Regions from separate parts of the Homo sapiens genome. Here region 2 is linked to region 1. The links come from fine-mapping of genetic effects on gene expression. A gene starts in region 1. The other region holds a variant in brackets. All regions are shown on one strand. Distances are between the middles of the regions.

What was found. PIP is the estimated chance that this variant, and not a neighbour inherited with it, causes the effect.
Region 2: its variant is fine-mapped to the expression of TCERG1L-AS1 in thyroid (GTEx, PIP 0.98).

Annotation. Positions count from the first base shown.
Region 1 is chr10:131,092,015-131,100,341 of GRCh38, forward strand. It overlaps TCERG1L-AS1 (TCERG1L antisense RNA 1), which reads left to right and starts at 3,204. Exons shown (of 2, transcript NR_120623.1): 1 at 3,204-3,285; 2 at 3,374-3,763. TCERG1L (transcription elongation regulator 1 like) reads right to left here. Exons shown (of 12, transcript NM_174937.4): 11 at 6,292-6,410; 12 at 377-1,304. The coding sequence ends at 1,148. RefSeq lists an enhancer at 6,472-6,973.
Region 2 is chr10:131,198,620-131,206,946 of GRCh38, forward strand. All of the region lies in intron 4 of TCERG1L (transcription elongation regulator 1 like), which reads right to left. LOC105378563 (a long non-coding RNA gene) reads right to left here. Exons shown (of 5, transcript XR_946484.1): 3 at 7,810-8,327; 4 at 5,900-7,503; 5 at 3,934-5,635. Among named protein-coding and RNA genes, the nearest start is that of TCERG1L-AS1, 110 kb to the left of the region's middle. The variant G/A (reference allele first, on the strand shown) is at 4,525.

The sequences.
Region 1 (8,327 bases):
CTAATAAGTGTGGAAAAAAGTGTTCTCATGGGAACTAATTAAGAAGAAGGTAGGTGAGGAGGCTGTGTCACTGTTTACTAGGGGACAAAGACATTGTATCTGAACAGAGAACTCCATAAATCTTGAAATAAATGAATGGATGTTTAATAGTTTAAGGAATGCAATTAATTAGTGAAGGTTTTGCCAAACGTGGTTCCACCCAGGACTACTAAGTATGTTGAAAAGTGAGATTCTGTGTGAGTGGCATTTTCATGGCCCTTATTGCAATCATCGGGATTTTTTTTCTCCCTGAATCTTTCAAAACTGGGTATCTTTAGTTGAAACACAATGTTGCTGCTTAAGATCATGGGGAATGTCTTAGTCACACATACACACACTGGTTTAAAATATTTATTGATTAAAAAAAATTAAAAATTTTTTATACAAAGGTGATGAGAAAAAATCTCATGCAAACTCCGGGCATACAATAAAAATAACTCAAATATTAATATGATGATTTTGTACAAAATAATTCTTTTGAAGTAGGACCGGTGGCAACCAACACGGCTCCCTGCTCCAGGCCGGGACGCCCCTCTGGGAGGAACGCGCGGCCACCCTTGGAAACCTGTAAGTGATCCACGGTCCAGGTGTGGAATGCTCACAGTTGTCACTATGATGAATGATGAAAACCCTATTGCTGCTACTCAGAAACGAGACTGAGACCTAGGGACAGAGTAAGGAATTCCTCAACACTGCGGGAATCCTGGAGAAACGAAGTAATTCACAAAGGTTTTCAGAAAAGTTTTCGCCAATCGTCTTAGGTGATGACACAAATGCCTTGAGATTGTTACAGAGGCTCCCGTTCCTGCTTCCCCACAGTCCTGCAGTGGATTGATAATTTGTGTATATTACAAGTAATTTGCATAATTAAAACAATTAAGGGATCGACGTATCACGGTGATTAGAAATGCATCAAACTCTGAATGTACAAAAGAGAGAGCTTCAATATGAAACAGTAATCCTCTGAGAACGAAGACCCCGCAGTGCCGGTGCCCGCTGGGCCGTGCAGGTCTCGGCCGCCCCACGCCCGTGTCCGTCTCCACCGTGACCCCCTCGCCCCCGGCACGCCCAGGGTCAACCCCCGGGCTTATTGCATTTTTTCACAAACTCATCTCATTTTCCGCAGCCTTAGTCTGTTTTCCTTGTCCCGTTTCTTAAGAATAAGTATGAATTGGTTGAAAAAATGCTCCTGGTCCTTTCTTTTTTGAACAAGTCGGAACCTCTGATCCCGGCCGTATTTCTCTGCAAACTCCTTAAACGTGGTCCTGAAAAAGAAAGAGTTTCCTGAGACACCTTCCAGAGAGCAACTCTGGCCTCCCCAGAGATCCTGCAGCGGCACCGCCTGAGCAAGCATCCAGCCCTTCCACCAGGCCTGGCCGTGGGTGGCAGGGCACCCGGTGGGTGAGCGGCTCTGACCAGCCGTGCCTGCTCCTCACCCGGGTCCTGCAGGGCCCTGACCCACCCTCACTTGCAGGACCCCCTTGTCTCTCCTCTGAGTGGTCTCCGGAAATGAGCGGCCCCCACCAGCCTCCTCAGCCGTCTCATGCAGCTGTCACTCCCCCAGCCGCCCCGATCACAGCTTTGCTGGCCAGGTCTCCTCCGCCCCTCCCTTGCTGCCACCAGGCTCTGCCTGCCACGGTCTTTCTTACACTGTTCCCTCTGCCTGGTACACCCTTCCCTTGTTTCTTCCCCCAGTTAGAGCTGCTCGTCATGAGAAACCAGGCCAGGGGGTCTTCTTTGGGAAACTCGCCCTATCTAGAGGCTCAGAGAACTGTGACTCCATCACAGCCCTCTTCACAGTGGTGATCTTGTTAAACCTCACTTGCGGAACTGGACTCCCACATTCGAATGAGGGAGACATTATCTGCTTCGTTCTCCAATAAATGCCCTGAATGTCCAGCCCAGTGCCTGGCAAGTAGTGAGCCCCAAACACTGATGGAGCGAATCAGAGCTGCCAGGCCAGGTGGTGCCCCGTAAGAAAATGCGAGCGACCCAGCCTAGAGCAGCAAGGCTGTTCTCAAGGCTACGGCAGCTTAGAGGGCAAAACAGGATGCGCCTCTGCTGTGACCAACTGACCTTCGCAGGCACCGGGCCCCGCAACTTCCTGTTCTCTTAGCCTTGAACTTGAAGCCAGGGACAGGGACAGAGGTAGAGGGACCAAGGCCTGGAGCCGCTGGCCTATGCAGATGCACTCGCTTGTCCAGCGACAGTCGGGCAGGGCCTGGCCTGGGCAGTGTGCTCTGGGGTGCACGGAAAATGTGGACATTCTTTGTCCGGGGGATTCTTCTTATTCCCTCCCACTTCTCCTTACAGAGAATTTTACACTTCCTTGCAGACACGGAATTATTGTGTTAAATTATTATAACTTAATAGCTTCTGAAATATACAAACAACAAGATTATGCCGACATGGCTGTTAGAAGACAAGACAAATAATTAGCAGACTCATGCTCATTTCTGTCATTGAACAATTCGTCTCATTCCTTCCCCAAGGCGCTGCCGTTTTCCTGCTCTCCGTCTGTGGGGGTGCTTGTTTACACATCTCTCGCAAGAAAAGCGCTTCTCTCTGGCTTCCCTCTTCCTCCCTCCCTCCTTCCTGCCCTCTCCCCTGCCTTCCCTTCCTCCTTCCTTCTCTCCCTCCCTCCTTTTCTCCCGGTTCCTTTCTTCCTTCTCTCCCTCCTTCCCCCTTCCTTCCTTTACTGATGTAACCACCTTGGTGTACCTTGGCTAAGCCACACTCCACCCCGACCTGCGGGGGATGAGTCAAACGGTCAGACTTGCCTGGGCTTGTTCCACGCTCCCCTGGCTAGACAGGCATCTACACATTCTCAGTTAGGGGCTGGACAGGGGCAGCTGCTAGACAGGCCCTATTCTGGGCCTCTCTGAAAAGAAGAGTCCCTGAAAAGAAAGGGAGCCTCCCGCTTCCGTGGCCCCTTAGCCATGCCAAGGGGCAGCAACCGGCTTTCTGCTGATGCTGATGAGCTGTGGTGTGAACTCACGAAGGTCAGCTGATTCACAGGCCCTGGATCTCTGCTCTCCCTCTGCTAAGTGGGACTCGGGCCAGCCTGCCATGAAGGAGGCGGCTGCTGCAGCTCTCAGGAAGGAACACTGGGCGGCTAACCCCACCGGGCGGCCAACCCCACCGGGTGTCAACCCCACCGGGCGGCCAACCCCACCGGACGGCCAACCCCACCGGGCGTCAACCCCACCGGGCGGCCAACCCCACCTGGCTAGGACCCAGTCCCCGGTAGCTGCTCTCCCGAGAGGCGGGCAGGGCTGGGGCTAGGGGCTGTCCAGGAGTGTTCTGGACTGTCCCGTCGCCACCATTCCCACAGGCTGCTCAGGACCGAGGCTGAGACGGGCGACCAGGACGGGACTGTATGGCTGCAGGAGGCTACACAGCCTCAGGAGGCTGCTTCTAAGAGGCCCACGTCGCCTGCATGGGGACGCGCCTGGCTCTCCAGCATGTGGTCATTTGAATTGTACATGTTTCACTAGGATGCCTACAGAAAAGTATACAGAAGATCTGGAAAAAGTTTTTGAAATGTTGAAAACTTAGCTACTTTTAAAATGAAAAAAATAGCTTTATAATTATCAAAGCAATATATCCCAGTGTAAATTTTAAAATAATTTGCTACATTATAGTAAGCATCTTATCTCTATGTGCCCTATAACATTATGTTGTATAGTTTAAATATATACAATAAAATTTATTTTAAAAAATAGCAGGCAATTAACTCTCATTTTAAAAAGAGTCCGTTTAACTCCCTTCTAATTTCTACCACTCGTTTTCCTTCTGTGTGCGTGTATGTGTGTATGTCATCTTTTTTAAATGGCTCAATGCATTCCGAATATTTTTTCCGTTGTCTTCATGATGTATTCATGGGAAGGGGAGTATGTGGCTTATTGCTGCTAGTTTATCAATAGAGAATGCTGGCCAGATGTCTTTAACAGTAATGATGGTCTCAATAGCAGTAATGACAGCTACCACTTTCGGAGCTCCTCCTGCCTGCCAGGCACCGTCGGGGTCCCTCCCTGCAACTCCTCACGCCATCCTCCTCGTCACTTTCTGAGGTGTGTGTGGTCATCCTCCCATTTGGAGGAGGGCTCGGGAGCACAGGAAGGTCCAATACTTACCCCATGGCCAGGAGAAGATGGGCCAGGGCCAGGCTGTGAACCAAGGCAGAGAAGGGGCTCCAGCACCTTTCCAGAGCCCTTGCCTCCTCCGCCTCTGTCCCAAGGCCACCTGGTGGGTGGACACAGCTAAGCCATGGCTAGAACCCAGCATTCTCATGACTGCTTTAACAATGGAAAATCACAAGTTGCAGGCAACAGGACACACATTTCCTTGTCTACATTAGCACTTGTGATGAAGATAATTCATGCTATTTTTTCCCTATTCAGAAAGTACCTGTCCTTAGAATAGCTAGAGAAGTTTTATGAGGATTGTGTAACTAGCACTAACTTAGGTCACCTAATTCTTGATCAACCAAATCACAGGTCAAACAAAGGGGGCCTATGCCTTCATAGAAAGCATCAATTAATGTCCATTTAAAAACCGATGCAGGCCAGGCGCGGTGGCTCATGCCTGTAATCCCAGCACTTTGGGAGGCCAAGGCGGGTGGATCACAAGATCAGGAGATCCAGACCATCCTGGCTAACATGGTGAAACCCCGTCTCTACTTCTCTACTAAAAATACAAAAATTAGCCGGGTGTGGTGGTGGGCACCTGTAGTCCCAGCTACTTGGCATGTACCCAGGAGGCGGAGCTTGCAGTGAGCCGAGATTGCATCATTGCACTCCAGCCTGGGCAACAGAGCGACTCCATCTCAAAAAAAAAAAAAAAGAAAGAAAAAACTGATTCTGGCTGGGCATGGTGTCTCACGCCTGTAATCCAAGTACTTTGGGAGGTCGAGGTGGGTGGATCACCTGAGGTCAGGAGTTCAAGACCAGCCCGGTCAACATGGTGAAACCCCATCTCTACTAAAAATACAAAAATTAGCTGTGCATGGTAGTGGGTGCCTGTTATCCCAGCTACTTGAGAGGTTGAAGCAGGGAGAATTGCTTGAACCCCGGAGGCAAAGGTTACAGTGAACCAAGATCGTGCCATTGCACCACAGCCTGGGTGACACAGCGAGGGTCTGTCTCAAAAAAAAAAAAAAAAAAAAAAGAAACAAACAAAAAACTGATGCTGCATCTTCCAGTCTAAAATAAAAATACATTGTTAACCATTTTTATGCTTACGAAACTTACAGTTTTATAGTTCTAAAAGTAGTACATGTTCATTACTTTTTATTTATTTCTTTATTCTTTGAGACGGAGACTCACTCTGTCGCCCAGGTTGGAGTGCAGTGGTGCAATCAAGGCTCACTGCAAGCTCCGCCTCCCAGGTTTACGCCATTCTCCTGCCTCAGTCTCCCAAGCAGCTGGGACTACAGGCACCCACCACCACGCCCGGCTAATTTTTTGTATTTTTAGTAGAGACAGGGTTTCACCGTGTTAGCCAGGATGGTCTCGATCTCCTGACCTCGTGATCCACCTGCCTTGGTCTCCCAAAGTGCTGGGATTATAGGCGTGAGCCACCGCGCCCGGCCCATGTTCATTACTTTTTAAAGATCAGTCAATTAAAGCTAATTTTTAAGAAAGAGTTAAGCTTATGTATTCTTCCAATTTCTAACATCTATTTTCTTGTAAGTGTGTCTTATTTCATGGAAATAATGCCTCATTTATTATTTTAGTAAGTTTTGGCAACCTAGTTAACTCAGTTCACTTGTCCGGTGTATCAAATCTTCATTTTACTCTGGGACCAACTGTTAAGACATCTGGAACCAAGGGGTGTGGTAGGGGTTATGGTGCTGTTGTTTGTAGTCAGCTTTGCATTTTTGCTTCTTGATCATTAGATCAGAAACTAGACCTCATCTCATGAGTGCTCACGTATTGATTGGTTATTTGGGTCAGTCAGGGCTGCTGACGTTTGAAATGCATGCAGGGTAGGAATAAAATGGTTGTGATGCATTTGGTTAGCAAATAGCCCACTTTCCCAGGACTGATGAGAGGGACATTTGGAGGCTCATGACAGGCAGCATGATAGAGGGGAGCCAGGCTGGTCTCACTGGCAGGTCTTCAAAGCTCACACTTTCGTGTCTGTGGAAGGCTGGGTTACACGATTTAACAAAAACAAACCTGAAGAGTCCTCTTGTCATTGGTAAGTTCCCAGCCCCAGAAATCATCCGGTATATTTCTCTCTCCATACCTGGGAGACACTTTAGATTCCTCTAGAAGTTTCTTGAATTCTTCTTTGGCTAGCAGCAATTTACTTTTCTTTTCCTTGTATTCTTCTTTTATTCTTGTCTTGACAAACTGTTCAAATATCTTAAAACACAGATACAGAAGAAAAACATCATGAAATTGCATATCAGAAATGAAATCTTGTATTCCAAGCACAACATGAGAAAGCAGCAAGAATCTATGGCAAAAGCTGTTCTTGTTTACAGCTGCTGGAGTTATGAGCAACAGCCTTTCAGCATAGCTCTCAAGGATCCAAGCAGTCTGAATAATTAAACCTGGGTGCCCACACGGCCCGGCATTTCTCTACATGCAGGCGCCATTTCTGGGTCAAACGTGAAGCAGCCCTGCTGGAGAAACCCGGAGAATGACTTGGCTGCCCTCTCTGCAGGCGTCTGGAACCAAGTGGCGGTTTGGAACCCGTGCTGTAGGCTGCAGTGGTCCTCACTGTGCCCTCTGAGCAGCATCTGTAACGCGCGGCCTCCCACTGCCTCATCACGGCCAGTGGCACCAGAACACAGCAGAGCACTTAGTTCGTGCTAGTCACTTCCTAGGGTGACGTAATTGACATTCGAGTCTCCCAAAAATGACCTTAACTTGTGGAAAGAAAGTAAATTCTGCATCTCTGATCCCCACTTGTGAACCTGGGCGTCTGGTGCCTTGGGGAGGACTCAGGGTGCATAAGTGGTCTCTTCTGAGGGGGTCACAGGATGCCAGGCTGCCTGGGTCATCAGTGTGGAAACAACTGGCCAGGAGGCCTGACCCTCGGGCACTGGGCACTCCCATCTGACCAGAAATGCATCTCAAATGCTGCCCCAAACAGGAAAACCCTGCTCCTCAATGGGAGGGACATGCACATCAGCTGGCAGGCAATTCTGGGCAAGGCCCCAGGGCACTTCTCCTGGAACCTGGCAGCCCGCATAACGAGATGCAATCTCTTTGTGACAGGCCACAGAACCTCTTCTCTGTCAGGGTAAGATAGATCATTGTTCTAACCAGCGAAAAATGGTCATTTATAGACTACGGAGTCAAAGAGGGACAAAGTTCTTTCATTCCTAATGCTACCCCAAACTCAAGAACGTTAAAAATAAACTGAAGATAAGTGTTTACGCAAACATAATAAAAATATCAAGAGAAAGTCCACATAGGATCCTATCAGGCCAATAAATAGCAACTGGGCACCAATCCAACCAACGGCCAGGCAGATCCTAGAATGTGACCGAGGACCAAGCAGGCAGCTTCTTCTACACTCATGCCAAATGAGTGGGGATGAGAAAGCAAGGGTGGGCAGGTGAAAGCCTCGACCCCAGCACTGCTCAGCCCCTTCTCCGGAGTGGCTTTCTTCCCACTTTGTCTTATTGTTTCAGATTCCATGTCAGCAGTGGCAAACCTTTACAGGATTATGAATACAAAATGCCACTGGTCCCCTGAAGATACAGCAGCGAAATGAAACATCCACAAATATGACCTAAATTGAGAATATGTGCATGTATATGTAAGTAAGAATATGATTGGCTTCTTTTTTCTTTTCTTTCTTTTTTTTTGAGGCAGAGTCTTGCTCTATTGCCCAGGCTGGAGTGCAATGGCATCACCTTGGCTTACTGCAACCTCTGCCTCCTGGGTTCAAGCAATTCTCCTGCCTCAGCCTCCCAAGTAGCTGGGACTATAGGTGTGTGCCGCCACGCCCAGCTAATTTTTTTTGTACTTTTAGTAGAGACAGGGTTTCACCATGTTGGCCAGCCTGGTTGCGAACTCCTGACCTCAGGTGATCCACCCGCCTCAGCCTTCCAAAGTGCTGGGATTACAGGTGTGAGCCACCACGCCAAGCCATAATTGGCTTCTTATGCCTTCAAGGCAAATAGCAATGTAAGTTCTTAGTTATCTTATATTTAACTAATAAAAAATTAATGCAGGGTTATTATCCAAATAAAAGCATGTGGCTCCATCATTAGCTAGAGTTTTGCTCTATTAATTTTAGACCTAGAGAGAAAGCCTGGCTGGCCG
Region 2 (8,327 bases), 110 kb after region 1:
AGCGGCCCCACAGCTGCTCTCCCAGGTGGCAGTCTTAGGCCTGTGGCCCTCCCAGGCTGATGCTGCATGCTGGTGACTCTACGGGTCTTTGTGGGGAGCCCTGCTCTCATGTATCCACTAGGCATTACTCTAGCAAGGGCTGTCTGTGAAGACACCACCCCTGGCAGATGGGGCCCCGAGCCTCTCTGAGGCTTCTTTTGCATCTGGGGTGGAAGAAGCTTGTGCCTGCTCAGCTCATGCACCCCGTGCACCTGCAGAGGCAGCGCCACGTGGACAACACCAAGGTCACAGCTGGTACCTTCTGGGGCAGCAGGTCCAGCCTCTCACCTGGCCCACTTGAGCCACAGCTGGGGCGGCTGATGAGTGCTGGGTCAGAATGAGGGGAATGGAAACTTGAGGCAGCCCTGCGCAGTGAGCCCCAAGATCTCATGGGCACCCTGGGCCCCTCCCTGAGCCCTTCCACCCTCAAGGGCCTGGCTCTCTGGGCCTGTGAAGGACTTGGCAGCCCCAGGCTCTCTGAAATGCCTGCAGGCTCCTGCTCCCGTTGTCTGGTGAACAGCATCTGGCCGTGGCCTATCTGTACTCACCCTTTGATCAAAGGGTGCCTTGGCTACCCTTGGTGCTCTCTCCCCAACCCCCTTCTCATTCTGTACCTGGCCAGACAGAGGATGTTCCAACTTTAAGCTCTGCTTCTCTTTTGATTGTAAATTCCATTTTTAACTTGTTTCCCTCTTTTCACATTTTACTATAAGGTCAAAAGAAGCATCCTGAACCCCTTGCTGCTTAGAGATTCCTGACAAATGTCCTAGTTCACTGCTCGCAAAGCTCTGCCTTCACCAAGTCCCAGGACACAGACACAGCTCACCCAGTTCTTGGCCACATTATAACAAGGGTACCCTTCCCTCAGTTTCCAATACCTTGTTGCTGAGAAAGAAAATAAACTTTTTATCTGAGGAATGCAAGCCCCTTTAAAGTAACAGGCCTGTTAAATGGGCATTAAAACTATGACAGCAGTCACGTCACACCCCCTTGAGCTAAATAATTACTTCTTGAAGCCACCTGCTCTGTGGGGTCTCAACTGACAACAAGCAGTCATAAAGGGCCACATACCAGGCACCATCATCACACCCTGTGTTCAGCAGTGCACAGCCAATCACTAAACAGTGCCCCTCCTGTAAACAGTGGGAAATCCCACCCGACAGCTTTGTAGCAGCCACCCCTCGTTCTCTTTCGCCTTTAAACACCTACTCGGAGCACTCCCCTATGCAACCTAGAAGTGTGTCCCGGCGGCTGCCCTCACTCTGGCTCTAGCAAAGGCTGTAAAATTACCTGCTGTGTCTCAGCTTCTCCCTTTAGGTCAACATTCCTCCTTTCCATCTGAAGCCTCCTCTGAATGGCCCTTCCCATCTATATCACTACTTTTCCCGACAGCTCTCCCCTCCTCTGAGCTCTCACCAGGATCGTCCTTAATGCTCTGTTCATGGCAATGCAGGCTTTTCCCAGCATTCACTCTGAAACGATTCCAGCCTCTGCCCCATTCCTGGTTCTAAAGCTGCATTCACATGTTGGGTATATTTTATGGCAATAGCCCACTTCTCAGCACCAGTTTCTGCCTTAGTCTCGTTTGTGCTGCTAGACAAACGAGCTGAGGCTGGGTATTTTATGAAGAACAGAGGACAGAAGTCCAAGGCCAAGGCACTGGCAGCTCTGTTGTCTGATGCAAGTTCCTGGCCACTCCACCCCAAGGAGTGTGGAGGGCCCAACCCCTGCTCCTGTGTCTGGAACATGGAGTCAAAGAAGGTGATTCTCAAACCTCGAGATGTAATGCCATTTGCATTGTTGGGTATTGAAATTACTTTGGATCAGCTACTCTTTCCTTCTTGCCTATGTCTCCTTTTTGGAATCAGGATGTTTATCCTATGTGTGTTCCACCATTGTATTTTGGAATCGGATGACTTGCTTGATTTCGCAGGCTCACAGCTGGAGGGAAATTTTCCTCGGAATAAATCACACTTTGGGTCTCACTCATATGATGTTTAAAAGACTCTGCGCTTTTGAGTTGATGCTAGAACAAGTTAAAACGTTTGGAATTACTGAAATGGAATGAATGTATTTTGCGTGTGGGAAGGACTCAAGTTTTGAGGGTCAGAGTAGAATAATATAATTGAATATGTCCCCTCTAAAATTTAGAAGTTAAAACTTAATGGTCATGTGAACACATTAAGAGGTGGGGCCTTTAGGAGTCGCTTAGATCACAAGGGATCCTCCCTGGCAAAGGGGATGGAGGCCCTTATAAAAGAGGCTTCTCGCACGGTTATCTCCCACTTGCCTTTCCCCCTCCTGCCAGTGCTGTGAGGACACAGCCTCCCTCCCCTCGGGCGGATACAGAATCACGGCGCCATCTTGGACGTGGAGGGCAGCTTTTGTGGTCTCATGACCTGTTAAAGGCCGTGCCTCTTGACACCATCACACTGGCAACTAAGTTTCAACACATGAAACGTGGAGGGGACACATTGGAACCATCACAAGAGGTGAAAGAATTCCTGAGAGTCAGGCCCACCACCCGCATAGCTGGCTTTGCCTCCCTGGAAAGTGAGCCCCCAAAACACATCCCACTAAACTCAAACTAAATGAAGCACCTCCCTTCCCCCAGCTGGGTCCTGCCACACCTACAAACACTCCACCACCACCCACAAGGCAGGGACAGCGACAGAGAGGGTCACGCTGGGAACAGACAGCAGCCTTCCTGAGGCCATCGAACATCCGCAGATTTTACACAGACACGTGATCGTGGGAGCACAGCGCCAAGAGTTCCCCGGGGTCTCGTAAGGCGCCAAAAAGGAGGGTCCCAGTACTTCAGTTTCATTCATTCATTATGGACCCGTCACTGCCAATGTAGAATTGTTGCTTTACTTACTATTTTAACAAACGCCACAATCTTAGAAGCTCTTAATAAGCATGATTTAAATGGCTGCAAATAAAAAAATATATAAAAATAAAATAAATCAATGGCTGCCAAATATTTCTACAAAACATGGACTGCAATTTGCTCTGCTGCTGCTGTTGGGCATTTGGACTTCTTTTTTATATTTAATCTCCGAATTTTACACTGCATTCTGTGGGATGTCCTCATGCGTCCTTCTCTGCGGGACTGTAATGACCTTCTAAATGCTCAGCTGTGAGTGAGTTTTTCAGAGCTGCCGGCTTTGCTAAACATGGCTGCTCTTTTACCCCACGTCCACCACCACGCTGTGCTGAAGGCGCATCCATCGACCTTCCTCAGAGACGAGGAAAGAGCCAATGAAAGATGCTAGAAAGCTCTAACAAGTCCCAGGGCCACGTGGGGGTCACGGGGGCTGGTTCTCTCCAGATCCTGTAATGCGTTTCCGATGACTGCTCCTTAGGAAAGGTCCCATGGACAGAACTGCTGGGTTAAACAGACAAACTAATTAAGAGTCTCGATTTATATTAATCCATTTCTTTCCAGAAGCGTTGTACCAAACTGCATGATCACCAGCTGCACGTGAGCCTCCCGACCACATGAAGGAGCACAGAGAACGTACACGCTCAACTGATTGTAACAGCCCACGTTAGAAACAGACTGATGCCCCCAAAGCAAGTAGGTATGCGCATGTCTGCACCGTGGGGTACCACAAAAGCTGGTAAGGCCGGAACTTTTTCGCCGGGCGCGGTGGTTCATGCCTGTAATCCCAACACTTTGGGAGGCCGAGGAGGGCGGATCACCTGAGGTCAGGAGTCCGAGACCAGTCTGCGCAACATGGTGAAACCCCATTACCACTAAAAATACAAAAATGAGCCAGGCGTGGTGGCGAGTGCCTGTAATCCCAGATACAGGGAGACTGAGGCAGGAGAATCCCTTGAACCTGGGAGGCGGAGGTTGCAGTAAGACAAGATCATGCCACTGCACTCCAGCCTGGGTGACAGAGCAAGACTCCATCTCCAAAAAAAAATAAAAATAAAAAACAGATTTTTTCAAGTTCACTACATTTTGGTCTTTAAGGTACACTGCTAAGTAAAACAGTAACGTAGCGGAATTCAAGTCAATAACATCCTCTCCACATTTTCAGGAATCCATAGGCTTGCATGGAATACACTGGAAATATTCTGATTATCTGATTATCAATAGAAGTTTCCAATATGAGAAGAATAGGGTTGGGAGGAGCTTGATTCTATAAGCTTCTAAATTGTTTCCATTTTTAAAATAAAATATGTTCATTTTTTACAGTTTATTTAGAAAAAAGAAACACTTAAATAATTAAGTCTGCCGTCTGTGGAAACGTACACCTCAGTTTTGATTGCTTCATGATTCATATTAACCAGGTGCCATCCTAAGTGGAAGTTTGAGTGAAGAGGTTTATTCTGGTTCACAGATTGTGGGGACAGAAGTCAAAGGTCACGCCGACACCGATGTGCTTGATTTATCACACAGCTGCCAGGAATTCCACTTACAAATTCAAGAACCATAGACAACAGCCCTCAAAGCTTTTCAATGACAGCAGTGAC[G/A]CCTTCTCAGGAGTAGTGACAGTGTTCATGGATATGCGTATACCTGTCTTCAGCCCTCCGAGCTGCGCTCTCTGGGTTACAGAGCACAGCTGGGTGGTAGATGACCTCACTTAAGACTTCCAGTACGTCCCACTGCACTCTCGCATGGGTGACAGAGTGAGACTCCGTCTCAAAAAAAAAAAGACTTCCAGTATGTCACAGTGGTGACCTTCATGGTCTCGTCACTTAAGATCAGCTCACTGTTTAATGAGGCTGATGACAAAAAAGCACCCTAAGACCTCTTTGACCAGACAGCAAACTGCCTCTGGTAGAACATCCAAGCTGGCCCCAATCACAGGTGCTCACGTCTCTATTTTAAGGGAATGCATGCACAGGACTTCTCAGCCTCATGGGAAAACGCCCCCGTCATGTCAACCGTTCACATTCGAAGATGGTGCGTCTCTCCCATGAGGATGAATGTGGGTCACCGCAAACGATTCAGGGACACATCTGCTTCTGGTTTGTGGCCCTGCCATACCGAGTTTCAGAGAGGTTGGAATCCAGAGGCCAGTAGGGGCCGGGAGGTGGGGAAGGCACTCTCCTAACTGCTGCTTCTGCTCACATCCCGCCGGCGAGCGCTAGCCCTGGGGGCAGCCTGGGAAATGTGATGGCAGCCTCCCTAGCCACTTTCCACTTCAGACCTCCTCCAAGTGGGGGGTGGGCATCTTAAGGGGACAGCTGGCTGTCTCCACCGCAACCCAGCTGGGAGGGGAGAGGCGTGATGTCACATTAGGTCACACTAGGGCATGAATACGTGAGTCCCCACAAAACCCCAAAGTAGGAAGCTAAGCCCCAATAGGACGATATGAAGAGGTGAAACCTTTAGGAGATGTGAAGTGATGAGAGCAGAGCCCTCATGGATGGAATGAGCGACCTCATGGAAGGCCCGAAGGGAACCAGCTAGGCCCTCTTAGCCCTTGCTCCCTCCTGCCATGGGAGGACACAGCAAGGAGGCGCCATCTTGGAAGCCTGGTGGCTTAGCACTGGGCCTGGGCCTAGCTAGGGTCTTGGCAGCTCTCATCAGGCACCAGATCTGCTGATGCCTTGGTCCTGGACTTTCCATTCTCCAGACCTGTAAGAAAAGCATTTCTCATCTCTATAAATTGTCTAGTCTAAGAGTATAGAGGAGCGGGAACAGACTGAGACAGGTCACAAACCAGCAAGTGGGCTGGCCCGATGGCCCCACCACAAGCAGGCTCAGGAAACTGGCACCTGCCCCCCCACCCTGCCCCCGCATCTACATGGCCTCCATATGCACAGCTTGAAAATGGGGATGAGGATGAGTCCATCCACCCCAAATGCCAGAAAGCACCTGTCAAAGCCATTTCCCATGTACAGTGGAGAAACTGTCCGTGATGGTGGGTCCTGGCTTCCCAGCAGCGGTGGCCACAGTCACTGTGTGGGCTCCAGTGGGGCACGGAGCCAGCTCAGATCCAAAGGTGTGTGTCCTCAAATCAAAGGACATCTGTCCAGTGTCCTTCCACTAGAGGCTAAAATAAACCAATGAGCCTGCGGGTAAGGGAAGAATGTTTCTTGGGGCAGAAGACTCCCTTCAGGGAGAGGCCCCGATGGCAGTGGACTTGTCCCTCAGCCCCTTCACAGCCTGGCCCCAGGCAGAACAGGTTGGCTGGAGAGAAGAGCCCACCTCTCGGTTTTATGAACAGGCAGAGGAAGGGATCCTTGATGGAGGTTCACACCATCTCTGACCACAAGCCCAGTGGCCTTTCTGCTTGAAGTCCAGGGTCTTGACCATGGGGTCAGGGCTCACGTGCTCTGCAGCTGGATCTGGTCTAAGGCCCCTGTCCCTGGACCTGTCATGCCCTCAACCCCTGCCACCCGGCTCTTTCTGGGGCTGCACTGAGAATCCAGCCTCTCCCAGACCAAGCGGCCCATGGCATCAACTCAATGGCAGCCTCTCCCAAAATCCAATTTCATTACACCTGGCTTTACTGCCGTTGTGACTGACAAGTGGTCCCCTTAAAAAGGGAAAAAGAAGGTTAATGCTCGCAATTCATCCTTTTATCCCAACAGCTCTCCTTTATGGAACGCCACATAATTAACCAGTGACGTGCACGCCTCATTGTGAGGCACAAATCAGATGCATCCCAACTCTCTGCTGTGTCACTTGCTTCAGAAATGTGAAGCTATGAAACCTAAACAGGTTTTCAATTTCTCCTAATGTAAAAAAAAAAAAAAACAGCAATAAAATCAAAAAGTGAGAGAAAAAGGGAGAAAAAGTTAGACTCTGGAAATAGCATCCTTCATGAAACTACATTAGATGTGAATTATTCCCACAATGATTTCTCTGTGGAATTGCCTCATTCCAGCCTGTATCTCACATTAGGGAATTTTGTAACAGGCTGAACTTTTATTTAAAAATGCTTCTCTTAAGTAGCTCCAGTGCAGCCCTGGGGACGTGGAGGTAAACGCCGCCTTCCATGGCCTTCCCTTGGCAGGGCACATCCTGGCCTGGGGTCATGGGGCCACCCTGGCATCTCTGACTGCCACTTCCTGGAAAGGCAGCATGTCCGCAGCCACCTTGCTGAGGTCACCTGGTCTTGGAGGCTCAGCACGGCGGACCTCATCCTTCCTAAGAGGCTGCAAAGGTTGTTTTATCCAAAAGATGTTTTATGCAAAGGGTGCAGGAGACGGGAGGCTGTGGGAGCCCCTGGGATGGACCCAGAGTTGGGAAGCTACGACAGAGGGCCGAGGTGGTGACTGCCCTCCACCTGGCTCCTGTGCCAGGTCTCTGTGGGGTCTGTGGGCAGACAGCTTGCCATATGAGCAGGGGTCCACGGGCAGATGGTTTGCCATATGACCACAGAGGTCTTACTATAGCTCTGTAGCTCCTTTGTCTGGAAGACTCTGAAAGGGCAGGAAAATGGATGCTGCAGACACGAAGCCCTCAGGATTCCCAGGCGGGAGAACTGGCTGGTGGCTCTGGAATAAGAAGTACAGGCGGATTTGAAGGATGTCATGGACAACGAATGAACTGCCAATCGGGTGTACGCCAAGGTCCGCAAAGGCAAATCCTCATGGAAACACCATCTTGGGTCACCAGAAGGGCTGGTCCTGCGGACCGGCTGGCAGCCTGGGAGTGGACTCAGGGCACTGGGCAGGGAGGTCAGCCCGGGACACACCCTCCAAGGGGGTCCTGGAGTGAAGACCGGTGTGGGAGCTCTGCCCAGGCCTCCCAGGCCCTGGGGCCCCAGACAGCCAAGGAAGGGAAGAATCCACCTGCCTCACCTGAGCCTTCCTGGAGCAGCCCTCAAAGGAAGGGGCACGAGGAGAGGCAGAATAGAGGGCGTTTTATCCATGGAACAAGCGCCCCTCGTGGGCGGCTGCCCGCCAGGCCTTGCACAGGCCCTGGGTGCAAAGTCCGTGCAATCAAGGACCCCGTGGCTGAGCTCAGTGGGCAGCATGTGAAGGAGGGGCAGAGGTCACGTGTTCCCAAAGGGACGACTGTGATGAGAACAAGAGCATCGTGAGGGGTGCAGGGTCCTCCTGGAGCCCAGAAGTAGCAGCTGAGCTCAGCCAGGGTGAAATAGTGGCTGGGGCAGCCCCGACAGTGATTTCCCAGGGATGTGGGGTGTAGGACAGGGAGGCCTGGTCCTCCTTGAAGAGGACAAGATCATGAGGAGAGGGTGGGGTGCGTCCAGGGAAAAGCCAGATGCTCCTCTGGCCAAGCGAGTGGTGCGGGAGGACGTGGAAGGATTTGGTACAGTCACTTCACTCCCAGAGGGGCCAGGGAAGCAAATGGTCTT